3 separate regions of the Homo sapiens genome follow, and regions 1 and 3 are each linked to region 2. Evidence: fine-mapped expression QTL. A gene starts in region 2. Each other region holds a variant in brackets. All regions are shown on one strand. Distances are between the middles of the regions.

Region 1 (10,407 bases), 30 kb after region 2:
TGGAAACACCCAGCTACTAGCACGGCTGTGAGCTTGGTCTCTGCAGAGCACCCAGCCCAGGGCGTGATGTTTAGCAGGGGGCCCTTGATAAATTTAAATTCCCTTCTCCTTCCCCCACTTTTCCCTTTTACTTTGCTACACACTATTTAAGCCAGGAGAGATCAAACTGACCCCATTGCCCTGGGACAAAGGAATGATGGCCTCAATTCAAGAGCAAAGTACAGGAGTTTTTGATTAACTCATAAACACTCCCGACTTCCAGCAGCCCAGCTGCTGTGGTGTGGGGTGGGGAAGGGAGGGGAGGGGAGGTTGTTGAGGGGACATGCAGGAAAGAGATTAGGAAATTCAGAACAGGAGGACACAAGGGCAGGGGAATGCTGAGGCCAAGGCCTTCTCCCACCACCTGCCTCCTGCGGGAGTGATTCCACAGTGCAGAGGGAGAGCCATTTGGAGGTCCGGCACCCGCTCTGCCCATGCCTATGCTTCAGGCTCTGTGAGAAGGCTGGACTCCTTCTGGAACTTCAGGACCTTGGATGCTCCCCTCCTCTGCTCCTGCCTCCCTTCCCCCAGCCCTGGGGTGTGTCAGATGTGTGTTTTCTCCTGGACTCAGCTGAAGCAAGGTCAGCCCAGCTTTCAAGGGGAGGAGCTTCCACACTCTAGGTCAGTGCTCCCGCGGACCAGGGACTTGACCAGAGAGCAGAGAGCATAGGGTGGGGTGTGGGGTGGGAGGACAGAGCACAGGGAGCCCTGGGCTCCCTCCAGAATCTCAGAGGTGCTCACATCCAGAGGGTCTCCCAGGAATCACGGAGCCCCCCCTCTGCCTCCATGCCAAAGGGATCCCAACTCATCCCAGGAAGAAGCCCAAATCTTTGTGCCATGGGGACCAAACATTCCACATGGTGGCTGTCCTCATGGTTTGCATGGTCATTCTGATTTCTAACCCGAATCTTTCCCGCATCGCTAATGGATCCTGTAGGTTCCAAGGAGTTAGTCATGATATCAAGTAAGCAGTTTGTTTCCCCTGAGGATGAGCCAAATTTTGGGAAGATTCTCAGCTGCCTGTCTCCACCCTCCTTCATCCAACTTACCACCCCGACCCTGTCCTCCTCCCCACCCGGACACGTGGGAAAATGCCCTGTTAGCCCTTCCAGTCATGTGAATGAGGCCACGATTCAAAGGCAGTGGGCAAGAAGGAGGCCACAGGGAGCAGCCAGAAAGAACCAGCCCTTTGTGCTAGACAGGGGTCCTTGGGGGATGAGTGCATTTTTGGCGTATTTAGAAATATTTATTTTTTATAATGAGCAGCAGAGGAGGAAAGGGGAGGGAGGGAGAGGCAGAGAGGCCAAGGCAGGACTTGGGAAAAGAGGCTGGAGCAGTGGTGAGGGCTGGGAAGGGAGGTTACAAGAGCGAAAGGAGAAACAGACAGGAGCCAAAGGGTAAGAAGTGGGGACAGAGAGGGAGAAGCAGGACGGTTCTGAAGACAGATGGAGATAGTGACGACACAGGTGCCTGCCACCATGCCCAGCTAATTTTTGTATTTTTAATAGAGACAGGGTTTCACCATGTTGGCCAGGCTGGTCTCAAAATCCTGACCTCAGGTGATCCTTCTGCCTCAGCCTCCCAAAGTGCTGAGATTATAGGCATGAGCCACCATGCCCGGCTGTCATTCTGATTTCTAACCTAAATCTTTTCGGCATATCTCATAGCCAGAGTTCTGGCTGGCGGCCTAGGAAACACCTCTCCTCCTCAGTCATTTGTAGAGTAGATATCAGTGATAGCTCTCCGGAGCCCCCATCCTCTCCCGGCCTGTTTTCCACTTGGCATGCTGTGTGGTGAGCCCTCCATTCACAGGCTTGTTTCCCCCAGGCACTGCCTTTACTGGCCTCAGAAAGCCTGACACCTGGCCCTGGCTGGAATACTCAGGTCCGTGTATTTACAAACATGGTTAGAGCATCAGCTCCGTGCCTGGAGTGTGCAAGGACCTGGGGAACCAGATATAGTCCCTCTCTCATGGAGCTGACCTAGCTGGGGAAATGGATGAGCGAATCAATGATTATACTGCATGATGATGGGGATGATGGCAGGGGCCATGGAACACAGTGGGGCTCTAGAGTGAAGGGTCTGGGGAGGTGGGGCGCGGGGTGGCAAATCCAGGAGGGCCTCTTGGAGGACATGGGGACATACTGAGTCCTGAAGAAAGGGAGATCTCATCTCTATCAAATTCTAGTGGGTTCAGGCTTGCTAGTCTCCTTTCCCCAGTCTTGCCACCCATTTTTGGGAAAAATAACAATAATTCATCAATCATTAATTCATCAGAAAAATACTTATTGCCTATGTAACATGCCAGGCATTGTGCTAGTGTCTAGAAATTCAACGATGATGAAGACCTAGTCACTGCCTCCCTGAAGCTCCCAGCCAAGTGAGAGAGCTGACAAGCAGGCAAGCAGTGAGCCCCTGGAGACCATGTGGAGTCTGTGCCAGGGCTCTCGGAGTGCACAGAACCCCTGTGAGCAACCAGCCTTCTCACTTGACACTCCTTCCCTGAACCCAAGGAAGAGGAGCCATCCTTGCCATTTGACAGAGGCTGCTGGCTTGCCCAAGGTTCTAGGGCAAGTACCTAGGGGACCCGCCACCTCTCCTCAGTTCTCAGACTCGAAGCCCCTGCTCTTGTGTCCTCCTAGCCTGGTCTTGCAGGAGAAAGAGGCTGAATGAAGGTGGGCTTGTCGCCTGGGTGCTGACTGCTCATGAGCAGGCTCCTGGGTGACCCTGCAGAAAGTTGGAACAGTGTCCTTCCTCTCAGGCTGCAGGTCAAAGATCTGGTTCCTTTGCTTCTCTGGCTTCTCCCAGTAGGTGGGGCTGTGGGAAAGGCTGGGAAGGTCAAGGGCCTCTGGAGTACTCTAGGCCCCTGGGCTTAGCCTGGCAGAATGGTTCTCCTCTACTTCCTACCTTCTCCCTCCTCCTGCCACATCCTCCCCAGCCTCCTTACCTTCCTCCTCCTCCTCCTCCTCATCTTTCCTGTGTCGTCCTCTTCTCCTTCCTCATTACTTCTCTTTCTCCAGTTTTCCTCCTCTTCCTCCTCTCCCCTTCCCTTCCTTTCCATTTTCTCCCCCACCTCCCCTCTTCCCTCCTCCTCTTTCTCCTTTTCTCCTTCGAACTAATTGCTTAAGGGGTGAAGACCAGGTCGACTTGTGAAAACCCTGATCCATCGCCATGGTGATGCTCATTCAAACTGAGTTCAAAGGAAATTGTTCCAGTTAAAACTAACAAGCTGGAGCCGAGGGCCCCAGGAAGGACCAGTGCCAGGAGGAGCAAGCCCTGCACCCAGAAAACTAGCAAAAACAAGCCCACGGGTCGCTTATACTCCACCCCTCTGTGTCTTCTCTGCAACCTTCAGATGGGCCCAACTAAAAGGGAACCTGAGAGGTCCTTGCAGGGAGCCCCCTGCCTCCGGGCCAGACTCCACCCAAGCCACTTCAAACAACAGAAAGGCCTGCACCTCCTCTGTGGTAAAGCCCTCCACTACCATCACTGCACAGTCTCCCTTACGCTAGGGTGCTGGTTTTTAACCACCCATGCTTTTGGAGACTTCTTCACGGTTTACACAAACACTTCCCATTGCTTTCGAATACACGTGGATTTGAAAGTACCAAGAGGAAAGGAACAAGAATGGCTGAGGCACCTGCCCCCTACCTAGGTGCTGTCCTAAGACTTCATACATGTTCACGCAACCCACTAATGCCATTATTATCTCCACTTGGCGAGTTTCCAAGGATGAGAAAGCGCCCAGTGGAAGAAACTGCTTAGAGCTTGATTTGAGCTCCACTAGGTCAGGCTGGTTTAGTTTGACCTCCACTAGGTCAGGAATGACAGGGTAGGCCTTGAATTGGGGGGAGATGGCTCAAAACAGGAAAGAGGAAGGGTCTTGGTTCCAAAGTTCAAGTGAGTTGTCTTCTGTGCTTTGAGTTAACCCGATCGCACTTGCTTCCCTGGCCCTCACAGCATCCTGCCTGTACCGACTCCCAGTTCAGCACAGGCGACTTTCAGCCCAGTGGCTGCAGATGGTTCCTCTCTATTGTGTGGGCAAGGACCAGGACTTCTTTGTCCATAGCCCAGGACCTGGCTCAGAGTGGGCTCTGGCTGTTAATTACATGTCCGAATGCTGAATGCTGAATGGAAACACTAGTCCCTTGGGAGCTGGAAGATTTGAGGTCCCCCAGGTCAAGAGAACCCGAGGAGCCCGGCTTGGTGAGCTTAGTATAATGGATGCACCTGAGGGCAGCAGGAGGAGAATGTCCTGGAGGGCCTTGTCGTGCTGATGTGGTGGCAGGGGCCAGCCCGGGGACCCTCTTCCTTAGGAGCTCTCACCTCTGCCTCATTCCCTCTCAGCATCCCTTTCTTGGTTGTTGTTTTAAATCCTGAAATATCTAGTGATCCTTCCAGGTACTAATAAGACATTAGTCTAGCAGCAAAAGAAATTCCTTGAAGGCGAAGACCGTGTCTGTAGTTCTATGGTGCCCCCGCAATGCAAAGTGCAGTGCTATGGAGCTCATGGGGGAGCTTCACAGGTACATGAGTGAGTGATCTGGGGTCTGGGTGCCCATGGGAGGGGCTCTGGGAGCCTACAGGTTTCAGATCTGCTCTTTCCTCAGATGTACTGTGAGACCTTGGGAAATCTCCTTGCCTCTTTGTTCCTGGGTTACTTCACGCGTAACCAAGGATGCTCTTGGATGAGCCATCCTGCTCCCCCAGACACATCAAGAGCAGAGTCATGCAGCTATGATGCATGATCGCAGCTCCTCCAGCATCAAGGACCTCAGCACCTCCCTCCCCTCCAGGGATAGGGACCTCTGGTGGTGACTGAGGTTCCTGCCTGACTCTCTGGGACCATCCGCTGCCCCTCCGTCCCCTCATTTCCACCCCCCATCACCTGCCCCTCCAAAGTTCGATGTGTCTGGATGACTGAGGTGAAATCCAGCCAGAAGGGAGGAAGTGACTCAGCCCTTGTTGGGGTGGGGGCACTGGAGAAGGCCCAGGGCCAGCCTCCCACTCCCAGGACAGCTTGCGCTGCTTTGTACTCAACCCCAGCCTTTCATCCCGGCAGCTTAAAGCCCCTTTCAAGCTGGAAGCAGTCCTGGGAGCTGGGTCATTGTCTCAATTAACAGGAGAAAGCTGGGGCCCAGGCTGGGTGGAGGCAACTTTCCCCTGAATTAGGCC[G/T]TGAGTCAGATGCCCAGGAAACCCAGGACTTCCTCGCAAGCCAATTCCCCCAGGCTCCTGCCCCAAGCTCTGGGCTGCAGGGGCCCGTTGCAGAGGAAGTGAGAGCTGTGTCCTTCCCTGTCACTCCCTGTAGAGGAGATCAGGGTCCTGCACAGGACCCCGAGGGTGTATTAGCTGGGCTGGAATTTCCCAGGGGGCCATTCAGTGGGTCCCCCTGACATTGTTGTTACTTGTGGGGATCCTGAAGAGGCTGTGCATTCCCAAGTGGAGAGAGGGGAACAAGGTGAGTGAACAGATTCTAGTAATAGACCCAGCCAGCCTTGGGGACCCTGAGCTGTTACAGCCAGCACACCCCACTGACTTTCTCTCCCTGTCACTGTTAAAATATTCATCTGGGCTGGGTGTGGTGTTCCGCACGCCTGTAATCCGAGCACTTTGGAAGGCTGAGGCGGGTGTTCGAGACCAGCCTGACCAACATGGGGAAACCCTGTCTCTACTAAAAATTCAAAATTAGCTGGGCATGGTGGCACATGCCTGTAATCCCAGCTACTCTGGAGGCTGAGGCAGGAGAATTGCTTGAACCCGGGAGGCAGAGGTTGCAGTGAGTCGAGATTGTGCCATTGCACTCCAGCCTAGGCAACAAGAGCGAAACTCCATCTCAAAAAAAAAAAAATCTGTAAATCATCTGTAGCCAATCATTTAATAACTGCTGAGGCTCTTGTGTACCTGGCCTGAAGCAAACAGATCACAGTTCTAAATCCTGGCTCGGTTGCTGCCTGGCTGTGCAATCTTGGGTAATTGCTTTAACTTCTCGGAACTTCAAGTGCCTTGAAGCTCCTTGGCTCAGCGTCTAGAATATAGGAGATTCCATCCCCACTAATATTGCATAGAAGATGAGAATTACAGAGTACAGGGGCTGGCGGGAATCTTCTTCGCTTCTCTTAAGGAACAATGCACAGGGAGGTCATGGAATGCTTCAGGTCACACAGCCAGGAGTAGGATGCAGGTTGCCACGGAGGAGCTTTCAAAGGGTGTCTGTTCCTGCCCTTCTAGGCTTGGATGAGGCAGCTCCCCGCTTGCTGAGTCAGGGAGGAGAAAGGCTGGAATAAGAAGGAGTGTGAGGGTGGGGTGTTGTGGGGAAGTCGGGGGCAGAAGAAAATCCAAGATATTGCGCAAAGAAGAGTGGGAGTAGGGGAGGGTCTGATTTAATGAGGCAGCAAGGAGGAGAGGGGCTGGCTCCCCCAACAGAGACTGCCGGCCCCTGTGGTGATACTCCATGTGCTGGGGATCAAAGCTGCCCTGGGAACACGGCAACAGTGCTGGGCCACTAACGCTGGAGCTTCCCAGGGGCCTGCTTGATGTAGCTGCCTCTGTTTCCTTCCCAGCTCATCACCCACGCTTATTTCTGAAGGGGCCTGTTCCAGCCCAATCGCCTTCTCCACGCCTCCAGCTTGGGTTGCTGACTCAGTCCACTGAATTGATGTCCAGGGGCACCTGTGGCTGCAGACTGTCCATCTCATCAATGCCCAGCTTCCCTCTCTGGCCCTTGGTGGCTACCACCATCTCCACCTCCTTTTGTTCTCTTGCAGAGCTCTAGGCTAGCTCAGCTTATTTGCTCAACAACCTCAGACTCTCAGTTTTGCCCTTGGCCTTGGCATTGGTCAGTAAAGTGAGTGCAGTGGGCCTGGCCCTTTCCCCTCCCTGGACCTTTTCAAATCTCAGTTCTGGGTTGACATATCCAGGCCCTCCATTAGCCTCCGTAAGTGTGAGGCCCCTCTCTCTCAGCTGCTGTTTCTGCAGTGCGCCGTTGAGAGGCCCAGCTCAGGCCAGAAGGCCCAGGCCTGTCTCAGGTTTACCCATCCACGGGGCTTTGGTTCTGGCACAGAAACAAGCTAAGGGTGAAGAGATCAGCATGGCTGAATAGAGGCAACTGAGAGTCCTCTGGGCAAATCTGGAGGATGCATTAGGGTGGTGATGGGTGGAAAGGATTCTTAAGAGGGAGGGAAACTGGGCCTGGTATCAAAATCGTAAGGAGAAAAGAATGTGACCTTTCTTCTGGGGTTTGTGAATGCTGGAGAATGGTTTCCTCAATGTGACTTCTAAGATGGTTATCTGAGGGTCTCAAACTCTTTCCCCTTAGGGCTTTTGTGCCTCCCACTGGGCACGTCCCCCAGTCCTGTCTCCTCCAGTCTCTAGCTCAACATTTCACTTGAGCTTTTTGAGGTCTTTGGATGGGTATTAATTCCCTCGCTTCTCAGATGAAGAAAAAAGGAGACCTAGAGAGATCTGGTGATTTACTTAGAGACTCACAGCAGTAATGTTAGAGCCAGGAAACTAACCAGGTCCACCTGGCTCCAGAGCCTATGCTGGTTCCATTACACCCTCATACAGACGTGTGTGTGGGGGGTGTGTGTGTGTGCATGCATGTGTGCACATGTGTGTGCATGCAGTTTCTGTATCGAGTATGTGATTTCCCAGAAATCTTTAGAGAATTGTTTGATGGTCTCTCTTCCTTCCTTCCTTCCCTCCCTCCCTCCCTCTTCCTTCCTTCCTTCCTTCCCTACCTCCCTCCCTCTCCTTCCTTCCTTCCTTCCCTCCCTCTCCTTCCTTCCATCCTTCCTTCCTTCTTCCCTCTCCTTCCTTCCTTCCTTGCTTCCTTCCCTCCCTCCCGCTCCTTCCTTCCTTCCTTTCTTCCTTCCTTCCTCTTCCCCTTCCTCCTCTTCTCTCTCTCCCTAGATTATACAATGAGCTGTCTTTGTTCATGATGTGGTTTCTTTCCAAGCTTTAGAGGATCAGAAGTGCTGGCCTTTGTCTCTCTGCAGCTTCAGAACTCCAGCTTCTAGCCCTGTCTGGCGAAGAGGAAAGTGGTTTTATAACTCTCAGCTGGTGTAGTAGCAGTCTCAGTACCAATATGACTTCTAGGTGAAATATATACATGTCTTAAAGGGGTAAAGTGGAGAAGCCAGAAGGGTCAGGGCACCTGTGTTCTAGGCTTTACTCAGCCTTTTATCAATTATATGACCTTGGACAAGTCTCCAAATTTTAGCTTCCTTACTGTGTGATGGAGACAACGATGCTATCAGCCTCCTAAAGTTGGATTAGAAGACACAATGTGCATGAACACATTGGGTAAACTACAAAGGATCAAGTCATGCATAAATGTCAACTGGGGGAATAAAACTATTGGACGCATCCCCCACTAGCGTTTCAATGGGACATCATGAGAATAGCATATGCTCCTCACCCCTGTCAGAGACAGGACCTAGTTGGATGGATCATTCTCTGTGATAATTCTTATGGCAGAATGAACTCACAGGCGGCCTCCCTACCTTTCATCCTGGTGATGTTAGGAATTAGTCTGACTACCATTAGTCATTCCAGATGCTGAGAACAGTGAACAACCGACATGGTGACACTTCTACTATAAGCCAAGCTCAGGAACGGGTGATGCTCCTTAGATGAATTAATGCTGGGGCTATTGTTTTATAAGGGGCAGGGTCAAAGACAAGCTCAGAAAGATAGCCCTTCTTCATAAGAGACCAGATAATTGGTGCTGAGAAAAAAGCTAGTGCTCATCATGGATGGAGACAGGCTTGCTTCTAGGCTACTGAGGACATCGACCACAGCTCTCCCATGGGAGACTAAAAGGCTTCCATCACACTGATGCCAGCTAGGCCATCAATAAGGGGGCTTTCTGTGGGAAGGGATGGGGCAGGGACACTGGTCCAGGCAACCAGAAAGAAGGGACTTTAGGAAAAGGGTAGGAAGTCAAAGAGAGAGACCAAGAGGTCTGGAGAAGAATGGGACAGAAGTCTATCTCAAGGTCAATGTCAGGTGGGCTCCTTTCTTTGTTGGTTCTTGGAAGTTAAAAAGTGAACTTTCCACCAGTGTATTGCTCTTAAGATCCACCTGCTCCTCAAGTGGAATGAACCAATAAGCCTTGTATATCTCCATTTCACTTCTCTATATTTGACCTGGGACACATTCTCCAGGACGAAGGTGTTCAGAAAAGCACAGAACTCTTTCCCCAGTTTCTTTCAGGGGATTTCTCTGAGTAGAATGGAGGAGCCCTGGACTCTGATGGGTGACCGTGTTGAGTCATCATGGTTACTGGCATCAGAAGAGGGCTCCAGGGGCCAGCGGTGGAGATGACCACCCTGCCCCAGTGTGAGAGACTGAGTTTCCTGAGGGCTGTTCACAAGTTAGCGAAAAATAACTTTTAAGAAACCTGAGTAATGACATCTTCTCAGGGTCTAGCCACAAATGTTTCTGATTGCACATTCTGGCTATAGATACTAATACTTGGGTTGGAAATAGACCCAATAGGTCATCTTGTCCATCCTCCTGCCTCAGGCAGGACTAATGATATATGTTTGTCTTATTCTTCCCCTAGAACTCCAGGGGTCAAAATACTGTATATTCCTCCACTCATCCATCCATCCATCCATCCGTCATTTATTGAAACATGAGTAGGACAGTGGACCTCTCCTTTAACAACTCATGGTATAGTCTTTTCAGAGTTTCCAATCCCTAACCAGCAAGAGTAATTTCTAATGTCTAAACTAAATGTCTAATCTAATCCAGTGTCTAATTTCTAACATCTAATCTAATGTCTTCATTTCGTAAATAAAGAGAAGGATAAAACAGGCTCATTCATTCATTCACGCATATGCAAATGCATGCATTCATTCCACAAATACTTCTGAGCATGTTGTCTGTTCCAAGTGAATTGGAAGGCACACCTTTGTTTTGGATATGCCACTTACCTTTCATGTTCACTAGGTACATCCTAAGACTGGGAACTCAATCAGCATTGAAAATGCGGTCAAGAAAAGCTCATATGTAACTACGTATTTGGACAAAATGTAGCTCCTACAACTCCTTCCATTTAAGGATCTCAAAATATCTAAGAGCATGATCATTGCCCAGAGGGAGTGATCGTGTGTTGAGGGTTTCATCCCAGCTGGCATTCGGGCGGCTCCAGAATTCCTAATTCTTTGCCACGAAACTGTTTCCAGAGGAGCAGGTAAGCAAGGCTGGGTTCTTTTGCCTCTGTCTGAACCTGCTCCCCAGCCCTTCCCTTGAGTTCTGTACCCTCTTCCCCCATCTTGGGTCCTTTCAGCTTCCACATCTTCTTGAAGCAAAAGGGGAGAAGGTGGGCTGAGAGTGGGACAGAAATACCCCCTTGAACTC
Region 2 (10,407 bases):
GATGACAGGTTTCAAATATGTGACTGAGTTTGGGCCCTACCCTCATTTAACCTGAGCTGGCTCCTTCTCCAGGTCCCCTCCCCTCCCCTAGAGCAACTGCGCCAGTGGTTCCCAAACTTTGCTGCACACTGGAATCACCTGGGTTCTTTTGTCACCCAGACTGGAGTGCAGTGGCGCGATCCAGGCTCACTGCAACCTCCGCTTCCTGGATTCAAGCGATTCTCCTGCCTCAGCCTCCTGAGTGGCTGGGACTACAGGTGCATGCCACCATGCCCAGCTAATTTTTTTTTATTTTTTATTTTTTAGTAGAGACGGGGTTTCGCCATATTGGCCAGGCTGGTCTCGAACTGCTGACCTTGTGATCCGCCTGCCTCAGCCTCCCAAAGTGCTGGGATTACATCACCTGGGTTCTTTAAAAGAAAAAACAAAACCAAAACGACTGCTGCCTGACTCCCACCCTGAGATATTCTGATTTCACTGGTAGGGTGTGCAGCCCAGGCAGTGGGAATTTTCAAAGCTCCCCAGGTGATTGTGAGGTGCGGCAAAGCTGGGAGCCACTGAGCTGCGGCATTCTTTCAGAGCTGTGGCTCGGTCAGCCTGATGGCCTTCACTCAGCCTCTGGGCAGGGCTTGCAGTAATGCAGGATGGCCATCTGATAGCTCCAAGCTACTGAGTCTGCAAGCCTCACCTGGGCTCCAGGCTATGTGTCCTCCAGTGGGTTGACGACTGTGACTGCTTTGCTGCGTCAAGGTCCAGAGCAGTAGTGTGGGAGAGAGTTAGACTGTCAGAACTCTGACGCGGGTAGAGGCAAACAGGTGGGAAGGGCTGGAGAGAGGGGGCTGGATAGGGTTGGGAATCAGACAGAAGCCTTGGTCCCATCCCACACAGGGAGGCTCACTGCTGCCCTGGGTGGACTGTCAGGACAAGGATGGCTGCTCCTGCTCTGAGGGGCTGGCCAGCAATTTTGGCACTTCAAGGAGAAGGTTAAGATGAAGAGCTCAAGGATCCTCCAGGCTCAGTACTGACTTTTCTGCATGACCTTGGGTCCGTTGTTCAATGTCTTTGAGTCCAAGTTTAGCAGAGAGGATCCTTGCTGAAATGCTGTGTGAGCCACAATTGCAAAGCTAACAGCTCCTATGTCTTGAGCCCTTAACACAGTATCTAATACAGAGTAAGGATGTCATAGGCACTACTAACTGTGGGATATGTGCTATTATTATCCCCATTTTATAGATGAAGAAATGAAGGTCTGGAGAGATCAAGTAGCTTGCCCAGGGTGAACCTGCTAATAAGTGGTAAACCAAGTCTGTCTCATTCAGTCTGGACTGTTCTCCCCAACGTGATCAAATGGCAAACAAGGCTCTTCCCAAGTAGATGAGGACTTTTCCCAAATCACTGCAAATGAGTTTGGTACAAGAAACACAAAAAGCGTGACTTCCCAGGCTGGAGTGCAGTAGTACAATTGCAGCTCAGTGCAGCCTCAGCTCCTGGGCTCAAGTGGTTTTCCTGCCTCAGCCTCCTTGAATAGCTGGGACTACAAGGCACACACCAGCGTGCTCCGCTAATTTTTAAATTTTTTGTAGAGACAGGGGTCTCGTTTGGCCTGAAGATTTCATATTCCTGGTTTCAAGCGATAAGCCTGCCTCAGCCTCCCCAAATCCTGGGATTACAGATGTGAGCCACCACACCGAGCCGAAGTCTTTTTCTTATAGGAAAAATCATTCCTTCTAGACCAAACTTTCTTATGGAAATCTGACAAACACTATGAGGCATGGGGCCTTGAGAACTGAGAGGTGACCCACCCTAGAAGGATCTGGACATAGAAGCTGCTGTGGCCAGTGCAGGCAGTGAGTGAGTGGCCTGGGTGAGGGTAAGGCTATTCTCCCCCACACTGCACTCTCCAACTCCACCCCGTCCTAGGCCAATGGAGAAACCTGGAGTTAAAGGGACTTGGGAAAGCTGGTTTCCTTTCGGTGTCTTCCACTCCCAATTCCCTCCCTTGCTGATGAAATTGGAGATGCCAGAGGTGGGTATGAAATGGTAGCTTCTGGGTCAGAGGCTAACCTGAAAATCAGACTTTAGAAACCTGGGTGGAGGTCTGAACCACTGTAGAGATTCAAATGAGGTGCTCACAATCTCCAGATGCATTTTCTAACTGGGCAGTCAGATGACCAGCATACCCTCACTCCAATCCCCAGCACCCCACCCCCGCCATCAGCCACTACTGCCAGCACATCACAGCTACCTGGGTACTTCTTAGCCTCTCCCTTCAGATCACAGCAATAAAAACCTTCCAGATGTAGCTAAAGGCTATAAAAGCTCAGCCCTACCCATTGCCTTTCACTGTCCTGGCCACAGCCAGGGAAGTCTCTCTGCAGGATTCTAGTGCAGCCACAAGATGACATCCAGTGGGCAGGGGGTTGGGAGCCTCACAGCCTGGCCTAAGGCTAACTTTCAAGGACAAAGGGCTTGGACAGAAGATTAGATCCCCGATTCCTGATGGATCCAGCCACTAACATAGATTTTTCAGGAACAGAACACACTTGATAAAATTCTCCTAGGGTTTAGGTGGGGAGGCAGGGTGCCTAGCTTAGGCCTGCGGAGTAAGGATGGGCTACAAAGTCTTCCCATTTGTGAACGCTCACTACCCCACCCCCCATCTGCCTGCTTATGTCCAATGTCAGTGCCAACTCCGTGGCCCTGGGGCAATCAGCGGTCAAGCCTCACCCCCCAACCCCACCCACCTCTAGCGGTCAAGCCTAACCCCTCACCCCTGCTAACTATGGCAATCTGGCTGGGTCCCTAACTGACTTCCCAAACTCCGCCACCTCTCCTCTAAAGCGCCCTGTCTCTACGAGGGAGGAAAGACAGGCAGCTTCAGCAAGGGTCCCCGGGGCCCCGGGCTCCCCCAGCTATCTAATCGGCTTCACCCCTGCACTCCCCCAGGGACAGAGCCTCACAGGGCCTCTCTTTAGCTGGGGGAAGGAGACAGAACGCTCCTTTTGAATACCTAAGACTTACCCACCCTCTTTTCCTCCAGCTTTCCTGCTGCTGGGTCACTGTTAGTCACTCACCATCCAGGCCCATTTCCTGATAATCCCCCAGCCCCCTGGGTGCAAGGCCCTTCTTATTCCCTCCAACACAGACACACACACACCAAGAGCGGGCTGGTCTCTAACTCCCAAACCGTAATCTGGGACACACACCCACACACCCACACCCACCCACCCACCCACCCACCGGGCTGGTCTCTAACTCCCTAACCCTAATCTGGGCCAAAATAGGGGGGTTGGCTCGCTTCTCTGCCAGGCAGAGTGAAGGGCAGCACTTCTCCCAGAGGGAGGGGGCCTCAGCTGGGGTCTCTCTCCAGGATCCTCCTGCTGCAAGCGCCCCAGCCTTCCAGACCAAAGAGGAGACAGGGCTTCTCCCGGCTTGAGAGGGACCAGGGGCAACCAGCTCTCCCCAGAAAAGTGAAACAGAGGGAGAGGTGACAGAGGGACTCCAAAATGTCAGGGCTGGGAGGCCTCGCAGACCCCTCAGTGCCCTGTACAGGGGTGAGAAGCCAGGCCCATAGGAGGAAAGAGGCTTGCTTGCTCTAGATCACACAGGGAGAACCCACAGTGAGAGCCCACAGCGAGAACACTTCGCCTAGGACTTTCCCACTAGAGCACAGGGGAATGACTCCAAGAAGGGAGTCCAGTCGTTAGTAGGAGTTCTGGAGGAGGGTTAGCACCTGGGGGGCTCTGGGAGCGCTGGAGGAGGGAGTGAGAAAGGGAAGCAGAGGGGTTCTTTGGAGAGAATGAAGGGGTGGGCCCTGGGGAGTGGGCAAAGAGGTGTAGAGAAGAGCCCGGCGTGACCTTGGGCCAGCTGCGTCTCCCTCCTGGGCCCGTCTTTCCGTCTGCAGGCAAGAGAGCGCCTGGGATCCCGGGGGGCTCAGGCTTGAAGGTGCCACCCCGGCGAGTGAGGGCGCCTCACCTTCTTGAAGTCGGCGGTGAAGGAGACGAGGGTGCCGTCGGGCTTGCGCAGCTCGAGGCTGATGCTGTCCGCGTCGCTGTCCGCCTGCAGGCTCTCCTCGGTCACCTGGCCGTCCGGCAGCCGCACGCGGACCCGCAGCTCGGCCGGCGCACCCGTTCCCAGCAGCGGCGCGAGCAGCGGCAGCAGCAGCAGCAGCGCAGGGCGCGCCAGGGGTACCCCGGGAAGGCGCATCCCCGGGGGCCGCTGCCGTCCGCGGCCCCGGCGCGCCGCGTGGGGGCGGGGAGAGGCGCAGGCAAACTTCGCCCAAAGTTGGGGGCTAGTTCGGGGCGCCCGGGAGCCGCTCCGCCGGGGGCCTTGGCCGCGGGGTCGCCCGCGAGGTGGCGCGGACGCACGTGGGTAGCGCTCAGCAGGGCGCCCCCGGCGGCCCCGAGGCGGAGACGGCGCTGCCCCGGCCCGGCTCCGCGGCCCCGGGCTCCAGCGCTGCGAGCCTGTGTTTTGCACTTTTCATTCAATCCCACCCCCCGTCACTTCCTTCAGAAAACAGAAACCACCAGGACCCGCCTTAAAGAGACCGCGCACCTCGCGGCCCTTAAAGGGCCCGCGGCTGCTCTCCGCACTTCGGCGTTGGCCGGGCAGGGGGCGGGGAGAGGGGGCAGCGGCTCCGCGGCTTTGTGCGAGCGGCCTCCTCGACCTCCCTCCCGCCCGGCCGCGCGGAGTCAGCGACCCAGGCGGAGTCAGAAGTTTGCTCTCCCGGGGCAAATCCCTTCCTTCCAGCAGGGGCAGGACGGGTGACTCTTCCCCCGCCCTGCACCGCCACCCCCCCCCCCCGCTTTTTTTTTTTTGGCTTGCTTTTGTGCCACGTGGATGAAATAATCGGGCTTGGATTTTTAGGGGTTTTGTTTGGTCTTTCAGTTTCTCTGACAGCGAATTTCTAAAAAGCTTCTGCAAAATCAGACCTCGCTTTGCACTCTGCCTTTTCCCTGCCCCACACTGGGAGGGTGGATCGGGGGTTCTCGCCCAGCTTTGCCACGGCCAGGTGTTAGACCTTGATGGGTCAGGTCACCCACTGGGACGCGGCCCTCAGGTTTTGTGAGCCCCTGTGCCTCTTTCCTTTTCAGTCCTGCCTCCCGTGCTTCCCGCATTCACGGCCTTTCCTCAGTCCTGCCCACCACCGCAGACCCGGTTCTTTCTCTCTATTATAGACTATGAAAATCCAGGGAAATGTTGGATTCCAGGTCACTTGGGAGAATTTCCAGGGACTCGGGACGCTGGCGCTCCACGACAGTGGCTTTCCCACAAGCCACAAGGAAACATGCGTGCCCTGCGGTGCACCCCAACAATAAGAAGGGTGAAGACCAGGAGATCTGGATTGCTGCCTCCTCTGATTAGTTGTGGAATTTAGGCACGTTTTAAAAATTCTTTGGGCTTAAGTGTCCCCGTGTGTATCGTGGAAGCTGCTCAGACCTACACTGTCCTGCCAGTCCCAGGCAAGGGAAAAAGCCCCACGAAGATGCTCAAAACCAATTGTTCCCTGACTTCCATTTTCACTTCTGTTGGGACCTTGATTACTGATGGGTGAAAACTCCCTTCTCTGCAGCCTCCTTCCCTTCTAGGGCTTCCCCAGCACAGGGCCATGTGAACTGCAGGGTCCGGCTAGAATCGGCCTCTTGCTATCATCCAGGGGCCCTTCCCGCTACCCGCTCTCTGCTGCCTAGATTTAGGACTGAAGGGAATTTAAGAGACTACCAAGTCAGCCTTTTCCAAATTTGCCTTTCCTGAAGAATCACCTGGATGCTTGTTAGAAAATAGATTCCCGAATCCCTAAACCCATGGAATCAGATTCTAGGGAAAAGAACTGAGGATTAGCATTTTTGACAAGGCCCACATGATGCTCGACATAAGTGGTTGACAGCAGGTATTTGGCAGATGTTTAAGCATAGAGCGTCTGGGCCAGACGCGGTGGCTCATGCCTGTAATCCTAGCACTTTGGGAGGCCGAGGCGGGCGGATTGCCTGAGCTCAGGAGTTCGAGACCAACCTGGGCAACAAGGTGAAATCCCGTCTCTACTAAAATACAAAAGAAATTAGCTGGGTGTGGCGGCGTGCGCCTGTAATCCCAGCTACTCGGGAGGCTGGGGTAGGAGAATTGCTTGAACCCAGGAGGCAGAAGTTGCAGCGAGCCAAAATTGCGCCACTGCACTCCAGCCTGGGTGACAGAGGAAGACTCCGTCTCTACAAAACAAAACAAAACAAAACAAAACAAAAACATAGAGCATCTGAAACAAGCAGCATCCTTCCTGGAGAACCTGGCTCCTAAGGAGTTCATCTTCACATCCGGGAGATAAGGCAGGCTGTTAGGGAATAATTGGATTAGCACAAGGATTGCTCCCCTAAGGACTCCCACTCTTAGCTGGCAACCGTTTAGACTAGAGATGCCCAGGGTCTTGAAATTGGCCTCCCGCCTGACAGGATGCTGGATCTCCATGCGGCCTTGAAGCTAGGTCTCCCACATGAGTCAGCCCACACAGTCATTAAGGGCCTCGCCCACATTTCCTAACTTCCCTTGTTTCAGGTCCTGTCCCCATCCGCCACCAGCTCTGCCCTCAGCCATTTCCCAGGCTCTTACCCCTTCTCCTCCCACAACAGCCCAGAAGTGGGCAAAGAAGCCCTGGATGTCAGATTTCTTGTTTAGGTCCCTGAGGTTTGTCTCTGTTCACATTTTGGGTTTGGAAACAAGGATGGAAGACCTCATCTCTTTCCCACCTCTTCCCCATAGTCAACTTCCTTCTCTACTTCAACCACAGATCAAACCAGATTTTTCTTTGAAAGTGATAGGGCATTTGAAATCTCACTCCATTACATAAGCCCTGCCTACCTACATCTCTATGCCTTGCTATTGATTTCACCTGACCACCTCTTCAAGCTCCAGGACAAAACTCAGGTTTCCCAGGAAGACTTTCTCGACTCCCCACCGACCTAGCCCTCTGTTCTGTGCCACTGTCTCCGGCCTCTGGACTCCAACAATAGTCATTATTATAGCAGCTCCTCCCCCATTGTATTTTGATTATGTCCAGGTTCTGTGCCAAGCATTTTACATGGATCATCTTATTTAATTTTCATGGCATCCCTCCAAAGTAGGTTCTATTCTTAGGCTCTTTTTACTGACTAGGAAACCAAAGCTTAGAGAGGTTAGGCAACATACCCAAGGTCACAAAAGCAGTAGAGCCAGCCGGGACTCAAACACAAGTCTGCCCGCCTGACCACAAAGCCCTTGCTTTGAACCACAGTAGCCTCTGCCTGTCGGTAGCCCTCACTTTCTGCCAGTCCCACTCGGGGCTCACATCCTGCGCTATCTTCTCCTGTTATCTAACGGTTTCGCGTGTGGCAATCCTGTATCCCCAGTGAAGCCGTCAGCTAGTTCAAACAGGCCAGCCCCGTGCTGGGAACAGACAGCGTTTCCCTCAAACCATCCGGGCATAGAAGCATCCATTCATCTTAAATGTAAAGGCCGTCAGAGGAAGAGCTCTAACAAGCCTAATTACTCCGACTACAACCAAACAGCCCTCATTGTCAGAGAGTTCTTCATGTCTCATCGCAAGACCTCTGCCACACCATAAACCAATTTCCTTTTTTTTCTCATCTCTAGCCCTTGGAAAGCAGTAGCCAGTAGTGGTTCAGAAAATGGGCATCAGGATCTCAGTCCTGGAGCTCGGCCCCAGTCATGAGCTGTGCGTCAGTGAGCCTGTTTCTTCAACTGTAAAATGGGCGCATACGTTTCTCCCTCACTGGGTTGCTTTGAAAATTAAATGAAACATTGTGCATAAAATATTTCGCAACATGTTTGGCATATAGTACAGATCCAATAAATGGTGGCTGTTATCCTTTAATTCTGTTTATTCTTTCCCATTGTATCACATACTAAATCTCTGATTATACAAGTCTCTCCCTCTCACCCCCTGCCACATGTATACGCGTGCATGTACACATATTCTTTCAGAAACATTTTTTTGGCTGGGCGCGGTGGCTCACACCTGTAATCCCAACACTTTGGGATGCCGAGGCGGGTGGATCACCTGAGGTCAGTAGTTCGAGACCAGCCTGGCCAACATGGCAAAACCCGTCTCTACTAAAATACAAAAATTAGCCGGGTGTGGTGGTGGGCGCCTGTAATCCCAGCTACTCCGGCGACTGAGGCACGAGAATCGCTTGAACCCAGGAGGCAGAGGCTGCAGTGAGCTGAGATCGTGCCACTGCATTCCAGCCTGGGTAACAGAGCGAGTTGGTCTCAAAGAAAAAAATAAATACATAAAAAAGAAATATTTCTTCCTCTCTATCCTCTTTAGGTGTCTAAGTTTTCTGTGTCTTGAGACCTCCGAAACTGAGAAATGGATAGCAGCAAAACCTCGGGAGGCACTTTCCCTTTGCTTTTTGGTCTGAGTGTGCCTTAATTTGGGAGGAAGAGAAACACCAAACCATCTCCCAATCTGTGCCCAAGAAAACAGGTGCTGACAAGACCCTGCAGGAGGTGGAAAGGGAAACTGAACCAATGACCTTTACCGAGAGACAGGGAGAGAACCACCAGGTGCTTGTCTTTGCAAGACTGGAAAGATTTTTTTCTTCCCATGACTTTCTGTGAGTGGCTGTTTGGTTTGGGTTAGGTTACAGCCCCTTTGTCTCTGGGCCTTTGCAGATAGAGTGGAGGATTTGCGATTTGAGTTTGAGGGAGAACCAGGGATGGAGTGAGGGATCCCCTCTGCTTCTCAATGTCAATTGCAAAGCTCCAGACACTTCATTGCCAGCACAGAAGTACAAATTAGCTTTCCGCCATCACACAATTATGCAGTTCCATCCATCAAGGGTGTGGTGGGAAAGTGGATTGGAGAGACAGCTGGTGGGGATACTGAGTGGAAAGGGAAGAGAAGTGGAGATGGCTGGGATAGGCATGGAGAAGCTATTCTTTTCGGGCAGAAAAACCAGGCAGAAGGGAAGTTGTCATGGAGGTGGGCTGGATCCATGACTTTCAGGAAGGAAAAGGAAGCCTGGATGATCAGAGCTGCAAGCCAAGGCAGATCTCAGTCCATTGATTAGTCCATTGATTATGGTAGCTCTTCAGGTGCCTTTTACCCTCTGCCTCTTGCTATAATTATTTCACAGTATTTGTGTTTGAAACCAGAGGCTACAAAAGAACCTAGGCCAGCTGTAAGTGGTGCTGCTCAGATTAGAAGCCTGGCATTCTGAAGCCAGGGCTTGTCTCCTCCTTTGACACGGCACAGAGCTCCATGTTGCCCATTGACTCTTGAAAGTCCCAAACATAGCTGGGCACGATGGCTCACGCCTGTAATCCCAGAACTTTGGGAGGCCGAGGCAGGCAGATCAGGAGGTCAGGAGTACGAGACCAGCCTGGCCAATATGGTGAAACTCCGTTTCTAATAAAAATACAAAAATTAACTGGGCATGGTGGCGTGTGCCTGTAGTCCCAGCTACTCAAGAGGCTGAGGCAGGAGGACTGCTTAAACCTAGGTGACGGAGGTTGTAGTGAGCCAAGATCATGCCACTGCACTCTAGCCTGGGCAATAGAGCAAGACTCTGTCTCAAAACAAACAAACAGAAAAAAGTCCCAAACATAACCTCTTTTCCTCCATGCTAGTTCCTCCATGAGGCCTTCCCTGCTCCCCACCCCCAGACTCATGCATTCACTCGTTCATTCAGTCATCTAGCACGTGAAGAGTGAGTCACTGCACTAGATGCTGTGGGCACAGCAGTGGAACAAGGCAGATGCAACAATTATTTACCCTGAGATGGAACATGCAAGAGAAGCAGGCTATAAAATCATGGCAAAACAAAATATTTTAATTATAATTGTTATAATGGAGAATTAGAGGAGAGTCTAGCCTAGACCAGGAGGCCTTCTTGGAAGGCTTTTCCAGGTGTAGCCTAATCTTAAAAGATGAATCAGCATTGACCAGCAAAGACAATGTTCCAGGCAAAGGAAACAGCTTGTGTACAGGACCTGAGTCTGGTGGGCTTCCCAGAAACATCACCAGGTAGCTAGGGCATGACGGGGGTGAAGAGTTGCTTGAAATCATGCAGTACAGTTTGGCAGGGCCCAAGAAACGCAGGGCCTTGGAGGCAATATTAGCACTGGGCTTGGTTTTGTTTTGTTTTCCTAAGATCAATGGGCAGTCATCGAAAGGTGTTATATAAGGGGTGACATGATCAGACTTGTATTTTAAAAATATTGTGCTCAGGAAATGGATTGTGGCCATGACAAGTAGTGCTGATGAGTGGGGTGGTGGTGGTGGCAGTAGGGGTGTGGAGAGGGGTTGGAATTCAGCAACACGGGGGAGTAGGATTTGATGTTTCTTTGGACTGGGGCAAGTGAGCAGGAGCGGTCAAGGGCAACTCCTGGTTCTGGCTTGCGTAGGCTGTGGCA
Region 3 (10,407 bases), 860 kb after region 2:
CCTCGCTGCGCCGCTTCCCGCCGCAGCGCCCGCGCCTCCGAGGGGACAGCGCCCTCTGGAGCTCGCTGGGAGCATCACCGCCTGGACGCCCGCGCCGCGGAGGAGCCGGCGCCCATCTCCACCCGCACGGCTCGCCGGTCCAGAGCCATGAGCCAAGAGCCCTCTTCACGCTGCTAACTCCAGGGGACAGACGAAGGGACATCTTTGGAAAACGCTGGTTTTGGTTTTTAAAAAGCCCAACTTTTTTTTTTTAATTTCCATAACTAAAGTGTTCAGACTGGAGTGCTCTCCTTCAGGCCTCTTCATAGCTGGGACGTTGCACTGGTCCTTTTATTGCTTTTCCAAGTACAACTTTCTAATGCTAGCCCTCCGTGGTGCTAGGTGGGCGTTGGCCAGGCCCCAAGCACAGCCACAGTAGACCTGGGATCTAAAACAAGTTTCTGTTTTGGGGGTTTGGGTTTTTTTTTTTTTTTTTTAATGTTTTGAATGGAATTTAGTTGCCTCCAAGAATTGTGCCTTATAGCATTTGGGGACCAGGGGGTAACTGCCCCTCCTGAAATATCCCTCAGCCTCTTCCCTTTTCCCCAGTGCTCTGTTCAAACCCGCCTGGGAAAGGGATCCTGCCCTTAGCCCTGGCTCGTTGTGCATTGCAGTGAGGCAAAGAAGAAAGCAGGTAGATTCCTTCCGACAGGGCATCAAGTTCTTCCCGCCCACGTCCTCTAGCCCACCCCTGGTCTGCTCCCCAGCTGTTTGAAGGATAGCACAAGCCCCTCGTCCCTAGAGCTTCTCTCCCTTTTATTTATTCTCTTAACATCCCTTTCCCCCTGGCCTTCCTGCCCCCGCCCCCTTCTCAGAGCCTCCTAGACAATAGGCCCTTTGGACCGAGTTTCTCAGGGATGCCCAGGCCACCCCTCAGCTCTTCTTAGCGCTGGTCTCCAGTCCTGCCCTGGGAGCTGGAGCCTGGGTATTTGGGGACATCTTGCCTCAGTTGTATGGTTCTTTCCTGTGGGCTCAATTTTGCCCTACATAGTTGGATAAAACTCTGTGCTGTCCTGGAGAGTAAAGCTGTTCACCCACACAGCTGGGCCCGGCTTGTGCCCCGTGGAGCCTGGCACATTCCAGGCTCCTAGGAGGAGGCATCAGAGAAAGACACCCTGAGTTTTACTGGCCTGACACCCTTCTCCAGAGAAGACCTGTGAACCTGAGCCCAAGGGCAAGTGTACACTTGTTTACTGTGTAAGCAAGAGTAGAAGAATGTCTAATGTACAGTGGAACCTTGTACAGAATAAATAATAGCTTTGAGAAATCAGTTGGCAGATGTTGGAATCTTGATTTGGGAGTGTTTGAATCTAGGAAGGGCTCCTAGTATATTAGGGGCCATCTATTTCATTGTTTCAACCAGTTTGTAAATTCCAAGTTTCTGGAAAAAGTTACCCACTTTTTAGTTTGAACATTTAAGTTTAATTTTTTAAAAACTGAAACAATACATATTTTGGACACTATATTCTTCATCTGGATTCACCAATTGTTTACAAACACATTTAAATATACAGCCATCCCCCAGTATACACAGGGAGATTGGTTCCAAGATACACACATACCAAAATCTGCACCATATTCAAGTCCCAAGGTCACCCCTGCAGAACCTGCGTATATGAAAATCAGCCTTCTATATATGTGGGTTTTGCATCTTACAAATGCAGTATTTTCTATCCTTATTTGGTTGAAAAAATCCACGTGAAAGTGGACCCACACAGTTCAAGCCCGCATTGTTCAAAGGTCAACTGTACTTTATTCTGTCTGCCGAAACATTTTCAGGTGAGGTGTTATATCACCACTTCTAAATACTTGAGCATACATCTCCTAAGAATCAGGACATTCTCCTATGTGACATGGTTTTCACATGTCCATTTTTTTTTTTAATGAACTGTCTACTTTTTAATGCTGGTATGGGCTACTCTCTTAATTCTTGGTTGAAACTCTTGGGGCTGGGCATGGTGGCTCACACCAGTAATTCAAGAAGTTGAAGTGAGAGGATGGCTTAAGGCCAGGAGTTTGAGACCAGCCTGGGCAACATAGTGAGACCCTGTCTCTATGAAAAAAGAAACACTTGGGTGTTTTCACAGACCTATGATAAGATAAAATACATCTCTCCAGCAGATGTCAAATATAGCAAAACTTGCTCTTAGAGCAGAGTATCATTACCTGGATGTGGAGTGACCAGGGCTTAGTCTTTTTTTTTTTTTTTTTTTTTTTTTGAGACAGAGTTTCACTCTTGTTGCCCAGGCTGGAGCGCAATGGCATGATCTCAGCTCACTGCAACCTCCATCTCCTGGGTTCAAGCGATTCTCCTGCCTCAGCCTCCCAGTAGCTGGGATTACAGGCATACGCCACCACGACCAGCTATTTTTCTATTTTTAGTAGAGACGGGGGTGTCTCCATGTTGGTCAGGCTGGTCTCGAACTCCTGACCTCAGGTGATCTGCCTGACTCGGCCTCCCAAAGTGCTGAGATTACAGGCGTGAGCCACCACGCCCAGCCAGGGCTTAGTCTTTGATAAGTCAAAGATCTCAGCTTTACCACCTAATACTTAGAAACAGTTACCTTTATGTTACAGGCTTTGTTCCCTAAAGTGCTTTTTCTCAAGACTTCAGATTTAACCCCTAAAAGAGGTGATGCCTTTGGTGCACTCGGTGACCCACGTCTCCTTTGGTGTCACCTCTTCATTAGCACTGTTCAGCTTTTCCATTTCTGCTGCTGGTCTTAGAACTAGGGAAGCTGAAGGCTCCACCAGGTGAGCCTGGAGTGTTTCATCAGGATTCTTCCTCACTGCCTTCACTGCTCCAGACACTGAAAAATAAAGGCCTGACTATTCCATCCTTGCTGAGACAGAAGCACCTGCTGTCACTTAAGGCCTGTGTGCTGCTATCAAACCCACCTCATGGAGGGGGACAGTTGTGGGGGCATTTTTCTAAGCATTTCCCAAGAGTGAAGAAGAGGGATTGAAAATGACAGTGACTTAAAACTTGGAATTTCTCCCTGAGGGACCCAAACTTCCCTGGCCTGCCCTGAGGGTGGCCTGACCCAGGCTGTGATTGGAAATCTTACCCTGATGATTGCCCCCAAGCCGCAGGCAAACAGGATCCCCTCAAAATAAAAACATGAGGCTTGTAGCAAAGTGAATGGCTGTACTCTGACTAGTTCTTCACTGGAGGTAGAAGCAGCCCTGTAATTTTTGCTGTCTTCCACTGGGGAACAGATGGACTCTAGGAGACATTGAGGGCAGGGGCTCCACTCAGGTCCGCCACCCTTGCTCCCAGCTCTTCAGTAATTAATCTGTGGTGCTTTCTCATCCCCATGGCAACAGGTCCTAGTGTTACACAGAGCACAAACACACGCAGGTCTGTCCCCACGTTTTTTTGTCCATCAAGCTTTGCCTCCTAGCAACTTGGCTCTCTTCCCTCATTGTTTGCTCTTGATCCAGCAGGCCTCTCCCTAGGGGAGGGGCTTCCCCTGCAACTGCTCTTGTGTGACCTTGAACAAGAACCTCCCTCTTTCTGGGCCTCCGTGCCTCATCTGCAAATTACTGAGATAGGACTTGTGGATCTTGAAGGTCTCCACTCCCATGTTATCAATCATTCTAAGTCACTTTTCCTCTAAACACATGCTCAAGTCCCAAGATACGGAACTTAACTCTAGTTCCCTGGTTCCAGTTTATAGAATTTTTTTAAGTGACCAATGCTCAGAATGCTTACTTCTTTCTATAAAGCTATATTTTATATATTTTTTTATTTATTTATTTTTTGAGACAGAGTCTCACTGTGTCACCCAGGGTGAGAGTGCAGTCATGTGATCTCGGCTCACTGCAACCTCCACCTCCCGGGTTCAAGCGATTCTCCTGCCTCAGCCTCCCGAGTAGCTGGGATTACAGGCATGCACCACCATGCCTGACTAATTTTGTATTTTTAGTAGAGACAGGGTTTCACCATGTTGGCCAGGCTGGTCTCGAACTCCTGACCTCAGGTGATCCACCCGCCTTGACCTCCCAAACTGCTGGGATTACAGGCGTAAGCCACCATGCCCGGCCTCTACAAAGCTTTAGAGTTAGATCATAGAGGTCACCTTGTCCATGATCTCGATTTGGCAGTGAGGATACTGAGCCCTAGAGAAGACTTGCTCAAGGCCACATAGCATGTCAGAAGCAGAGACAGGATGGAACCTGGGTATCTTGACTCCCTACCCAGTTCTCTTTCCGAGTACTCTGTCTTTAGTTTGAATAATTGACAGCATTTTGCAGGACTTTCTGCAGCAAATTTTCCAACCCTGCATCTATTAGGAACTGAGCCAAACAGCAGTGTGACATTCACACATACCCAACAGCAAAACCACCATGATCTGCCTCCTACCTGGACCCTAGTAGGTCTGTCTGAGCTGGACACCTCTGAGGGTCCCCATCCTTCATTGCTCTACGAGCAGAAACAAGCACCTGTGCAGGATGCAGGAGGCAGCAGAAAGAGACTAACATTCACAGCCCAAGCAAGTTACTTAATCTCTCTGAGCCTCAATTTCCTCATCTGTAATCTGAGCATAACATTACCTATTCAGAGTTGTGAGTGCCAGTTAAGAAAAACAGTGTCTGGCCAGGCACAGTGGCTCATGCCTGTAATTCCAACACTTTGGGAGGCCAAGATGGGCAGATAACTTTAGCCCAGGAGTTTGAAACCAGCCTGGGTAACATGGTAAAACTCTGTCTCTACAAAAAGTACAAAAATTAGCCAGACATAGCACCATGCACCTGTAGTCCCAGCCACTTGGGAGGCTGAGGTGGGAGGATCAATTGACCAGGAGGTTGAGGCTGCAGTGAACCGTGGTCACACCAGTGCACTCTAGCCTAAGCAACAGAACAAGAACCTGTCACACACACACATGCACACACACAAAAAAAAAAAAAAAAACGAAGGAAGAGGGGAGAGAGAGAGGAAAGGAAAGGGAGAAAGGAAAGAGGAGAGGAGAGGGGAGGGGAGGGGAGGACAGAGGAGGGGAGGGGATGGGATGGGTGGGTGTCTGGCACATAGTAGGTACTCAACAAC[T/C]CAACAAACTTCCATTTCCCCCGCTCAACTCCCATTTCCAGGACTATACCATCAAAGCTCCACTGAGATTCTCATGGTGGGTGATCCTCAGCAAATTTTTTTTTAAACCAACACTGTCCCTATTTAGCAAATATTTAATTCCTCTCATCTCTCTGGATGCTTCTATCTTCTCTTCCTTAACAATACACTTGATGTATGTAAGTATAGCATTGCCCAAACTAAACAGAGTGCCCGTTAAATAGGGATTCCAAAATCAAGGAATTGGCTTTTCCAATTTTCTGATATTTGGGGGCATCTGCCTCTTGGAGGTAGTAATGGGATTGAGCTGCTATCTCTCATGCTTCTAAAGACTAGGGAAGCCTATGGCCGAGGCAGGAGAATTGCTTGAGCCCAGGAGTTCGAGACCTGGCAACATAGGGGGATCCCTTCTCTACAAAATTAGTCAAGCATGGTGGTGCACACATGTAGTCTCAGGTACTTGGGAGGCTTAGGTAGGAGGATTGCTTGAGCCTGGGAGGTGGAGGCTGCAGTGAGTTGTGATCACACTCCAGCCTGGGTGACAGAGCAAGACCCTGTCTCAAAAAAACAAAAACAAAAACAAAAAAAAGTGGAAACCAGGACTCCAACAGCCCCAGCTCTGCAACCCAGCCCTGCCCCTGGGCAACTGTACAACTTTGGGCAAAGGCACTTAACTTCCAGGAGCCTTGGTGGCATCCAGAAAATGAGAAGAAAACACCTACCTCCCTCCTCTTGCCACCGGGGCTGGAATAAGGATGACGTGAGGCAATGAGCTGAGGGGTCTGCAGTGGATTTCACTCTCAGTGTGTTTTAGGTGTGCCACTCCCCAACCCTGAGCTGGCCCCTGGCTCCCCTCCTTTCCTCCAGAAACCCCTTCATAACGCAGACAGTTGCAGGAGTGCCTGTGCCCACAGAGGCACTCTGCGGCCTCTACTACATCCTGGGTGTAGTCGAGGATGGCCGTGGGTAACAGCAAAGCAGAGAGAAGCTTCCTGGTCTTCCAGGCCTCCCCTTGGCCTCCCTTCTGTTGTCTCCCCACTCACAGGAATAGTTCTGAGACCCAGTTGTGACCAAGCTCCTCAGGCCACAGTGCTAAGCCTCTCCTCCTTCCTGGAATTCCCTAACCAACCCCCAAGTTCTGCCTATTCAAATCCTTTTCAACCCTCAAACTTTAGACTAAAGGCTCATCTCTTCCAGGAAGTCCTCCTGCTGGCCCCATCAGAGGAAGTCATTGTTTCTTCGGATTACCCAGCATTTAATCTCCAGACTTACGGCCCAGTAAACTGTCTTCATCTCTGTCCAGTGAACCACACTTCTCAAAAGACTCCCTCACATTCTTTTTTTCTTTTTTTTTTTTTTTTTTGAGACAGAATCTTGCTGTGTTGCCCAGCCTAGAGTGCAGCAGCGCAATCTCGGCTCACTGCAACCTCTGCCTCCCGGGTTCAAGCAATTCTCCTGTCTCAGCCTCCCAAGTAGCCAGGACTACAGGCGTTCACCACGATGCCCGGCTAATTTTTGTATTTTTAGTAGAGATGGGGTTTCGTCATGTTGGCCAGGCTGGTCTTGAACTTCTGACCTCAGGTGATCCACCCACCTCAGCCTCCCAAAGTGCTGGGATTACAGGCGTGAGCCACCGCACCCAGCTGACCCCCTTACATTCTTTTTTCTTTTTTTTTTTTTGAGACGGAGTCTTGCTCTGTCACCCAGGCTGGAGTGCAGTGACACGATCTCAGCTCACTGCAAGCTCCACCTCCCAGGTTCATGCCATTCTCCTGCCTCAGCCTCCCAAGTAGCTGAGACTACAGGCGCCCACCACCACGCCTGGCTAACTTTTTTGTATTTTTAGTAGAGATGGGGTTTCACTGTGTTAGCCAGGATGGTCTCGATCTCCTGACCTTGTGATCCACCTGCCTCGGCCTCCCAAAGTGCTGGGATTACAGGCATGAGCCACCACACCCGACCTCCCTTACATTCTTAAAAATTATGGAGAACCCCAAAGACCTTTGCTTTATGTGGGTTCTATCTATTAATATTTACCAAATTAATATTAAAGCCGAGAGAAATTTAAGTATTTTCTTACTAATTTTTAAACAATAAATTTTAATATAATGAACCCTTTACAAGCTAAAGTAAGACGGAGTCTCGCTCTGTCGCCCAGGCTGGAGTGCAGTGGCGCAACCTCGGCTCACTGCAAGCTCCGCCTCCCGAGTTCACGCCATTCTCGGGCCTTAGCCTCCCAAGGAGCTAGGACTACAGGCGCCCACCACCACGCCCGGCTAATTTGTTTTGTACTTTTAGTAGAGACAGTTTTCACCGTGTTAGCCAGGATGGTCTCGATCTCCTGACCTCATGATCCGCCCACCTCGGCCTCCCAAAGTGCTGGGATTACAGGCGTGAGCCACCATGCCTGGCCAATAATGTTTTTAAACCATATAATCCCATCACTTTGGGAGGCTGCGGTAGGAGGATTACTTGAGTCCAGGAGTTTGAGACCAGCCTGGCCAACATAGTGAGACCCCATCTCTACTAAAACTGTAAATTAAAAAAAATTAAAAAAAAATTTTAAAAAACCTCCTATATTTTCTGAAACAAAAAAAAATTTAGTAAGAATGGGCCGGGCGCAGTGGCTCACTCCTGTAATCCCAGCACTTTGGGAGGCTGAGGCAGGTGGATCACCTGAGGTCAGGAGTTCAAGACCAGCCTGACCAACATGGAGAAACCCTATCTCTACTAAAAATACAAAATTAGCTGGGCATGGTGGCACACGCCTGTAATCCCAGCTATTCAGGAGGCTGAGGTGTGAGAATCCCTTGAACTCGGGAGGTGGAGGTTGTGGTGAGCTGAGATCTCGCCATTGCACTCCAGCCTGGGCAACAAGAGCGAAACTCCGTCTCAAAAAAAAAAAATTAGTAAGAATGGCAGTGTGGCTTTATATTTGTGCAAATCTCTTTAGCATCTGGCTTAATAGAAGGCAGCTGGACTCGCGTCTCCTTCAGCATTCACCCCAATGTCATATCACATGTCACGGAGCGTCTGGAAAACATGAATGAGTGTGAAAAAGGCACATCATGTCTTAGTGTTATTATGAGCCTAGTTCTAAGCTCTCAAGTCCTCTAAAAAAAGGCCCCGGGCCCCACTTTGAGAACTGTCACAGCAGAGCAGGGGCTCCTTGAGACGAGGGCACCTTGTCTCAGTCGGCTCCATGAGCCCAGTGCCTGGCCAGACCCCGGCACAGCAACCTCTCTCTCAATGATCACAGCGAACGAGCAGCTTCAGAGGAGCAGACCCAAGGGCGTGGCTCTCCCAGCTCATCATTCTCAAAGCTCAGCGCAGGGCCACTCTGTCCAGGAAGCTGCCCCTGTGGCCAGGCTCTTAACACACAGTGTGGCAGGAATCCTGCTCTGTCTTGATCCACCCAGAATGAGAAGTACTTTGTGGTCAGGGACTGTCTGATCCTCTCCAAGAGCACCTGTCCCTACAGCTCCCAAAAAGTCTCTTCCCTAAAGACCATGTACCATTAGACTTCCAAGGGTCTAGGAAACAGCTTGACCCCCTAGACAAAAGCAAACTAAGACCCTCCAGGGACGAATGGAGAAAAACTTGTGGGTGGAGGCATCTCCTTTCCTGAGTGCAAGGAGGGCAGCCTGTCCTCTTTGCTTCCATCCCCAAGGGGTTCCTCACTCTGCCCCCATGTCACTCTGATCCCTCTGCTCCCCCAGCATGCCTCAGCCCCAATGTGGGGTGAAAGAGGTACATCATAGAAAACGTGAGCCTAAGATCTATCCATTCCTAGGCTCAACTCTCATCTCTGTATCTTACCAGCTGTGTGACCTTGGGAAAGTGACATAACCTCTCAGAGGCCAGCACCAGCATTTGTAAAATGGTGACGCTACCTCATAGTTATGAAAGGAGAGAAACTGCATGTAGCCCTCTTGCCCAGACATTCTACAAATAGTAGCCAGAAATATGAGGCTCTCTCCCCACTTCCCTCCCTGCCAAACTCTCAGCCTAAGCATGGCTAACACAAAACAGATTACCAATCCCTTTCCTTTCTCCCTGAGGACAGCAGGGCTAGGCTGGGATTTTCCAAGAGGACTTCGCCCATGGAGAAACAGGCATGAAGTAATCTTGTTTGCAGGGTGTAGGTTTCCTACTGTGCAACAGCCCCAGTGGCTAGACTCCACACCCCAACCCTCCCCAAGACCTGGGCACCTTCTCCCCCTTCCCTGTCCTTTCTCCTGCGGGCTTAGGGGTCCCAGGAATGAGCAGCCAGTCCCCCTGCTCATGCCATGTTCTTCTCTCTTGTCCTGGTCACACCGGTGATCTACCAGGGGCCTTCCAAAGACCCGGCCTGGCCAATACCCCTGTCACCCTGGTGGGGAGGAAAGGTGGGCAGCTGGCTTTGTCCACCCCCTACACCCTGCTTCTTTCTCAGACCACCTAAGGCTCCCTTCTGCCTGCAACTTCTCTCCCCTCCCAGCGACCCCCTAAGTGCTCACTCAGTGCCTTGGGTGATGGGGTGGAGAGCTCCCCTCGTCACATCCCCGCACAGAGCACCTAGTTTCCTCTGCTGGGTGTTCTCAGCCACCGCCTGTGCCTTTAAGAACTGCCACCCTGTGCCAGGGGCTTGACCTCAGCATCCTCAGCTGAGTTGGATTAAGGGACCATTTCGTGCCTTTGTGAATTCCTCCTGGCTGCCATCCCTTCCCCCACACAGAGACAGAGTAGCCCATAGGCCAAACCACTCTACCAAGGACAGCCCAAGAACTGGTCTAGCCTGGCAGCCTTTTCCCTCGGGTAGTAGAGGCTGCCCCTCTGACAGGGAGTTTGTGGTCAGCGAGTGGGCCCTTGGGGGTCTTGGGCTGTCACAGGGACTCCAGAAAGCCATGCAGAGCCTTGTGCCATGAAGGACTTCTCAGATGTCATCCTCTGCATGGAGGCAACAGAATCGAGCAAGGTAAGGACCACATAGAATCGTGCTCCTAAGACCCAGCACCAGTGGTCACTGCTGCCCTCAGCCCTCAAGTATCTCCCCCTTCCAGACCGAGTTCTGCAATCCTGCCTTCGAGCCTGAGTCTGGGCCACCCTGCCCTCCCCCAGTTTTCCCAGAGGATGCCAGCTACAGCGTCCCAGCTCCCTGGCATGGTAACCATCCCAGGGGGTGACCTGGGGGAGGACAGAGAGGCCCAGGAGCCAAGGACAGCATGAGGAATACCCAACAGAAGGGGCTTTCAAAACCCCACCTGCCAACCCGCAGGTCGGCGTCCTCGAGGGCTACGGCCAGACTGCCGCTTCTCCTG

What was found.
Region 1: its variant is fine-mapped to the expression of OAF in whole blood (TOPMed, PIP 0.94).
Region 3: its variant is fine-mapped to the expression of OAF in vagina (GTEx, PIP 0.98).

Annotation. Positions count from the first base shown.
Region 1 is chr11:120,175,463-120,185,869 of GRCh38, reverse strand. LOC124902773 (a long non-coding RNA gene) reads left to right here and starts at 272. Exons shown (of 2, transcript XR_007062923.1): 1 at 272-620; 2 at 7,951-10,407. The variant G/T (reference allele first, on the strand shown) is at 5,215.
Region 2 is chr11:120,205,079-120,215,485 of GRCh38, reverse strand. OAF (out at first homolog) reads right to left here and starts at 4,454. Exons shown (of 4, transcript NM_178507.4): 1 at 3,976-4,454. The coding sequence starts at 4,206. RefSeq lists silencers at 4,137-4,246, 4,337-4,386, 4,567-4,826 and an enhancer at 5,160-5,701.
Region 3 is chr11:119,346,117-119,356,523 of GRCh38, reverse strand. It overlaps USP2 (ubiquitin specific peptidase 2), which reads left to right. Exons shown (of 13, transcript NM_004205.5): 13 at 1-1,309. It overlaps MFRP (membrane frizzled-related protein), which reads left to right and starts at 9,819. Exons shown (of 15, transcript NM_031433.4): 1 at 9,819-10,064; 2 at 10,150-10,252; 3 at 10,365-10,407. The coding sequence starts at 10,011. It also overlaps a transcript of C1QTNF5 not described here. The variant T/C (reference allele first, on the strand shown) is at 5,090.